2 linked regions of the Homo sapiens genome follow. The gene in region 2 interacts genetically with the main gene of each other region. Each region holds a gene or a part of one and is shown on either strand. Other genes may lie near its edges. The genes, in order: SP1 and ATF6.

Evidence for each region.
Region 1: of ATF6 (region 2) and SP1, changing one enhances a phenotype caused by changing the other (phenotypic enhancement), as found in Homo sapiens cells (one study listed by BioGRID).

What each region holds. Positions count from the first base shown.
Region 1 is NC_000012.12:53,407,658-53,411,477, reverse strand, and holds part of SP1 (transcription factor Sp1), read right to left. Parts: intron 2,117-3,820; coding exon 1,917-2,116; intron 552-1,916; coding exon 238-551; 3' UTR 1-237. UniProt on the Homo sapiens protein: Transcription factor that can activate or repress transcription in response to physiological and pathological stimuli.
Region 2 is NC_000001.11:161,793,799-161,797,618, reverse strand, and holds part of ATF6 (cyclic AMP-dependent transcription factor ATF-6 alpha), read right to left. Parts: intron 1-3,820.

The sequences.
Region 1 (3,820 bases), on a different chromosome or scaffold from region 2:
TCAAAGCGTGGCACCAACAGAATTTTCACTAATGTTTCCCACCTTCAAAGAGGCACTGATGATACAGATGGGTGCCGGGACCCCATCTCCTCTCTTGTATCCCTCTCCTGATTCTTCTCAACACCATGCATTTTAATGCTTCATGGCTCTCTCTTCCATGTCTCTTGGACCCATGCTACCTTGCATCCCGGGGTTAAGGGGTATGGCCCATATGTCTCTGGCCCCGGGTGCCTGATCTCAGAAGCCATTGCCACTGATATTAATGGACTGCAGATCTGCCACCTGCATGACGTTGATGCCACTGTTGGCAAGACGGGCAATGCCCTCTGGACAGATGGCCTCCATGGCTACCATATTGGTGGTAATAAGGGCTGAAGGAGTGGCAGTGCCACTGCCTTCTGAACCTGCCCCACTGTCCAGGGGCAAAGTGCCCACACTCAGAGCTACACCTGGGCCTCCCTTCTTATTCTGGTGGGTCTTGATATGTTTTGACAGGTGGTCACTCCTCATGAAGCGCTTAGGACACTCAGGGCAGGCAAATTTCTTCTCACCTAGGTAAAGGAAGAAAAGATAAGAAGCTGACATGTTAGGAAGTGAGGTTACCTTACCCAATTCAGTGCTTACTCTACTAAGCTGAGTAAGGCCAGTATGAGAAGGTGATCAAAAACAAGAAAAATCTTCAAGTGGCTGGGCGTGGTGGCTCACGCTTGTAATCCCAGCACTTTGGGAGGCCAAGGCGGGCAGATCACGAGGTCAGGAGATCAAGACCACGGTGAAACCCTGTCTCTACTAAAAATACAAAAAATTAGCCGGGCGTGGTGGCGGGCGCCTGTAGTCCCAGCTACTCGGAGAGGCTGAGGCAGGAGAATGGCGTGGACCCGGGAGGCGGAGCTTGCAGTGAGCCGAGATCGCGCCACTGCACTCCAGCCTGGGCGACAGAGACTCTGTCTCAAAAAAAAAACAAAAAACAAAAAACTTCAAGTATATTTTCCTTTTGGCGGGGGCGTGAGGAAGAAAACTAGATAAAGGTTGGGGAGTACTCGGTAAGGAAGGTAGAACTTAGCAGTTTTAAAAGTAAGGCAGGGCAGAGACTAAGAGTAATGGTTTCAATGCTTCACCTTCAAAAATCCCACTCAAAATCTAGCTCCTTATTTTATTTTATTTTATTTTTTTGAGACAGAGTCTTGCTCTGTCGCCTAGGCTGGAGTGCAGTGGCACAATCTCAGCTCACTGTAACCTCCGCCTCCAAGGTTCAAGCAATTCTCCTGCCTCAGCCTCCTGAGTAGCTGGGATTACAGGTGTGCACCAGCACGCTTGACTATTTTGTAATTTTAGTAGAGACAGGGTTTCCCCATGTTGGCCAGGCTGGTCTTGAACTCCTGACCTCAAGAAATCCACCCACCTCGGCCTCCCAAAGGGCTGGGATTACAGGCATGAGCCACGACACCTGGCTCCTTCCTTTTTTTTTGAGACAGTGTCTCGCTCTGTCGCCCAGGCTGGAGTGCAGTGGCACGATCTTGGCTCATTGCAAGCTCCGCCTCCCAGGTTCATGCCACTCTCCTGCCTCCACCTCCTGAGTAGCTGCAACTACAGGCGCCTGCCACCATGCCCGGCTAATTTTTTTGTATATTTAGTAGAGACGGGGTTTCACCATGTTAGCCAGAATGGTCTCGATCTCCTGACCTCGTGATCTGCCCGCCTCGGCCTCCAAAAGTGCTGGGATTACAGGCGTGAGCCACTGCACCCAGCCCCTCCTTCCTTCTTAAAAATTTTCCAGATTAACTCCAATTCCATTTGTGACCCATATATTCAGTTTCAAATTAAGTTGCTCAGAAATTTTAGTTATTTTGTAGGTATATTTTGTGTTTTTCATTCTAGTCTATTACTATTTTTCTCTCCCATAGGCTCTTGCTCACCTGTGTGTGTACGTTTGTGCCTCTGTAGCTCATCCGAACGTGTGAAGCGTTTCCCACAGTATGACCAGGTACACATAAATGGCCTCTCGCCTGTATGCCAGCGCAAGTGTGCCCGCAGGTGAGAGGTCTTGCCATACACTTTCCCACAGCCTTGGATGTGGCAAATATGCTGTTTCTTTTTGCCAGGATCCCCCGAGCCCCTGAAAGTGAGGACACAACTGTTAATCATTCATTCTAGAGAAAACTAAAGAACCACAAAGTATCAACAGCAATCACCCAATCGACACCAAACTAACCCAAACTTTTATTTTTTGAAAAAGTCTTCTTTTTTGTTTTTTTGAGAGAGTCTCACTCTGTCGTCCAGGCTGGAGTACAGTAGCATGATCACGGCTCACTGCAACCTCCGCCTCCTAGGTTCAAGCGATTCTCCTGCCTCAGCCTCCCGAGTAGCTGGGATTACAGGTGCACACCACCATGCCCAGCTAATTTTTATATTTTTAGTGCAGATGAGGTTTCGCAATGTTGGCGAGGCTGGTCTCGAACCCCTGAGCTCAGGTGATGGATCTGCCCACCTCCGCCTCCCAAAGTACTGGGATTACAGGCGTGAGCCACTGCACTGGACCAAGGCTTCTTTTTTTTGTTCGTTTGTTTGTTTTGAGACGGAGTCTCGCTCTGTCGCCCAGGCTGGAGTGTAATAGCGCAATCTTGGCTCACTGCAACCTCCACCTCCCGGGTTCACGCCATTCTCCTGCCTCAGCCTCCCGAGTAGCTGGGACTATGGGTGCCCGCCACCACACCCGGCTAATTTTTTGTATTTTTAGTAGAGACGGGGTTTCACCATGTTAGCCAGGATGGTCTCGATCTCCTGACCTTGTGATCCACCCACCTCGGCCTCCCAAAGTGCTGGGATTACAGGCGTGAGCCACCGCACCCGGCCAAGCCTTCTTTTTTAAAAAGGTTTCTAGGGGCTGGGAGTGATGGCTCACGCCTGTAATCCCAACACTTTTGGAGGCCGAGGCAGGTGGATTGATCACCTGAGGTCAGGGATCCGAGACCAGCCTGGCCAACATGGCGAAACCTCATCTGTACTAAAAAATACAAAAATTGTTCAAGACCAGTCTTATCAACATGGTCCCCATCTCTACTAAAAATACAAAATTAGCCAGGCGTGGTGGCACATGCCTGTAATCCCAGCTACTTGGGAGGCTGAAGCAGAGGAATTGCTTGAACCTGGGAGGTGGAGGTTGCAGTGAGCCGAGATCGTGCCGTTGCACTCCAGCCTGGGCAACAAGAGCGAAGCTCTTTTTTTTTTTTTTGAGACAGAGTCTCACTCTGTCGCCCAGGCTAGAGTGTAACGGCACGATCTCGGTTCACTGCAACCTCCACCTCCCAAGTTCGAGCAATTCTCCTACCTCAACCTCCCAAGTAGCTGGGATTACAGGCACCTGACACCACGCCGGTTAATTTTTGTACTTTTAGTAGAGATGGGGTTTCACCATGTTGGCCAGGCTGGTCTTGTACTCCTGACCTCAGGTGATCCGCCCGCCTTGGCCTCCCAAAGTGCTGGGATTACAGGCGTGAGCCACCGTACCCGGATGAAGATCTGTCTTAAAAAAAAAAAAAGGCCGGGCGCCCCCATGGCTCATGCCTGTAATCCCAGCACTTTGGGAGGCCAAGGCAGGCGGATCACAAGGTCAGGAGATCGAGACCACCCTGGCTAACACGGTGAAACCCCGTCTCTACTAAAAATACAAAAAATTAGCTGGGCGAGGTGGCGGGCACCTGTAGTCCCAGCTACTAGGGAGGCTGAGGCAGGAGAATGGCGTGAACCCAGGGGGCGGAGCCTGCAGTGAGCCAAGATTGTGCCACTGCACTCCAGCCTGGGCAACAGAGCAAGACTCCAT
Region 2 (3,820 bases):
CTCCCCAGCTTGCTGTATTCCCAGGTACTTTATATTCTTTTTTTGGCTATCGTGAATGAGACTGCATTCTTGATTTGGCTCTCAGCTTGGACATTACTGGGGTATAGAAATGCTGCTGACTTTTGTACATTGATTTTGTATCCTAAAACTTTGCTGAAGTTGTTTATCAGATCTAGGAGTCTTGGGCTGAGACTATGGGTTTTCCAGGTATAGAATCATATCGTCTGTGAAGAGAGGTAGTTTGACTTCCTCTCTTCCTATTTGGATGCCTTTTATTTCTTTCTCTTGCCTGACTGCTATGGCTACAACTTCCAGCACTATGTTGAATATGAGTGGTGAGAGGGACATCCTTGTCTTGTTCTGGTTCTCAAAGGGAATGTACTTCCAGCTCTTGCCCACTCATTACAATGTTGGCTGTGGACTTGCTATAGATGGTTCTTATTATTTTGAGGTATGTTCCTTTGATGCCTAATTTGTTTTGAGGTGGCCTCCATCTTTTATGAAGTAAAAACATATAAAATGCAGAAATTACTCAGAAGCAGATATAAACATGCTTAGGCCAAATACGCAAATAAAAATTAGAAACACATAAAGTAAATAGCATATGACCAAGTGTTAGGTTTTAATAACAATAAGAAATTACAGTAAATCTGGCACTATGAAAATATATATTTATCATAATGTGAAAAAAAAAACCAAAAAACAAGAATTCCCAAGTGCTCAAGTCATAGCCAGAGCAATCAGGCAAAAGAAAGAAATAAAAGGCATCCAAATATGAAGAGAGGAAGTCAAACCATCTCTCACACAGATGATATAATTCTACACCTAGAAAACCCATAGTCTCTCCCCAAAGGCTCCTGAATATAAGGGCTCTCTTTTAATATAAAATAATATCCTGGTCACCCAAAACCATCAAGGTTGTCCTTTCAGCTTCTGTGTACTGAGAAAATACATGATGGAAAAAGGCTGCTAAGAATTTAGTGAAGATTTAAAATGAACTTGGAGTTTATTAGTCAGAAGTATAGCTATAAAAATTTGAAGAGCTGTACAAAGATATATGAAATAAATTATTTGGTCTACAGAAAATGCTTGCTTCAAGTATGGATTTGCAGATGCTTTGCAAAATGCCATAAAGCTACTACCCCCATCACCCACATCCCAGGGTCCACAATATACAGACTGAGAACCACTGACTTAAACCAATACTTTGAGAAGAGTATTATAGGAAGCCATGTTCTACATCCTCTGAGTTTAAAATTATGATTAAAAGATCCCTCCCCAAAATTAAACACTGTTCAGGGAACTTTGGGACTATTTTAAAGAACAGAAGAGGTGTAAATATAATGAATTAGGCAACTTATAAGAAAGAATCCTATTTCTAGCTACAGTTACAGATTTAAAGCCCTAGCAGATAACATGTACAGAGGGCTTTGTAATATTTCTTAAACTAATTAAGAAAAATAATCCAAATCTGTACTACCAATTGTGTAATTACCACTGTCTCCTTGCTGAGACGACCGCATCACACAAAGGAGATGGAAGAATACCAAGGCAAGGCCAAATGTGGCTTGAGTCCTACCAAGCCACTGCTGCTTCCTTTTTTTCCCATATTGTATCAAGCCTTTTCATCCCAGAGTACCCAACTATCCTCAAATTACCCAGCAGCTAAATCAGGGATACTCTAAATATTCTAGGCATGTTTGGGTTCAACACAGAATGAGGGGAAACAACTAAATTTCTATGACAATATGTTCAAGTGAAAGAACAAAAAACTCTCATGGTGACTTGGTAAATGCTGACCAGGCCACAAACTACAATGCAAAGAATTGTTTGGGGCCTTAAATAGCAGCTGAACATAGTTACTACTGTTCCTAGTGTGGAAACAGTTAAAAAGGACATTCCAAAGGCTGTTTATCCATTTTAGCATGCTCAAAATCCTCTCTGGCATTACATGCAAATCCCCCTTAACGGAACATGGCTGGATTCAATGCCATATATTTTTTTGACTATGTGTAACTCACTGATTTTGATAGTTCTTTCTTTTAAACTTTCTTCAAAGATTTTAAACTATGTATCAAACATTTATTGAATGCCTACTTTGTCTGAAACAGCATCGGTGTGTGACTTAGGGCAAATAATCTGTACTTAGCGTTCTCATCTAAAAAATGGAGATATCACAACCCATCACCATAAATCATAGAAACATACTGAAGTTTCAAATAATGTGTAAATATTATTTGAAATAAGATAATGCACTTAAGCACTTAGAAGAGTGTCTGGCACATAGTAAGAACTTAAATGCAATTATTATTATTATTAATCTCCTTTTCTATATAATAATAGCTTCCATAAGGGCACTGCATGAGTTATTAATTTATTAGTTATCACAGTGACTGTTATTTAACTGTTTATGTGAATTTAATCCCCCAATTAAAGTGTAGAATTCTTGAGAGCAAGGAATACATCTGTCATTTTTTTTTTAAGGCGATACAGTATAGTGATTATTCACATAGACTCCGAGCCAGACCACCTGGGCTCAAGTTCTGGCTCCACTTCTTATTAGCAGAGTGATCTGGGCAACATATTTTACCTCTGTCTCCCATTTCAATAATTTTCGCCATCATCTACCCAAAAAGCCCCAAGATAGAAAAACGGAAGTCATCCTAGACACCTTCCTCTCTATCGTTCAGCCTCCTTCTACACAATCCAATTACCAATCTCTAAGATTCTACACTTTTAACATCTCTACTCTTCATCCTGGTTCTCCACTTTCATTGATATTCCAGGCTTTCATTATCTCTCATCTACACTACTCAAAACAGTCTTAAAGGACATGGAGGACTGAGAAGTAGAAGTAGGCATAAGTTGTTGCTGGTTGGTAGAAAATGGTGAGCCAAAAAACTAGGAAAAACAAGAGAATTCAAAGGACAATGACAGATTAGTTGAGCTAGAAGAAGGGATTTATAGAAAAGAGTAATATTATAAAGTTCGAAAACTAAACTAGGAGGCCAGGCATGGTGGCTCACGCCTTAATCCCAGAGCTTTGGGAGATCAAGGTGGGTAGATCCCTTGAGCCCAAGAATTCGAGACCAGACTGAGCAATATAGTGAGATCCTGTCTCTATTAAAAACAAACAAACAACAATAACAAAAAAACAAAAAACTAAACTAGAGCCAAATTGTGAAGAGTTTTACATTCCAAGCTAGAGAATCTCAGTCTTAAACCTGTGGAAATTACCTCTTCTTTTTCAATGGTAACATATTTACTACTAGTATTAACATGATTAACTGTATAATGTCTTGCCCATACTTCCCTTCTTCCTCCCCATTCTCAAATAAATGAAAAACATACTTTAAATCTGTATGTTATTATAATAATACCACCTATTTAGATTGTACTATAAAAACAGACAAGGCACCAGGCGCGGTGGCTCACACCTGTAATCCCAGCACTTTGGGAGGCCGAGGCAGGCGATTACGAGGTCAAGAGATCAAGACCATCCTGGCCGACATGGTGAAACCCTGTCTCTACTAAAAATATAAAAATTAGCTGGGCATGGTGGCACGTGCCTGTAGTCCCAGCTACTCTGGAGGCTGAAGCAGGAGAATCACTTGAACCCAGGAGGTGGAAGTTGCAGTGAGCCAAGATCACACCACTGCACTCCAGCCTGGCAACACAGCGAGACTCTGTCTCAAATAAAAGAAAAAAAACAGGCAAGGTGCAGTTCCTCATATTAGCACATGCTCACAAAAAAATAACTATAGTCTTCAGATGACAGGAAAGTATTGAAGTTTCAAATAATGTGTAATTCAGGTTTCTG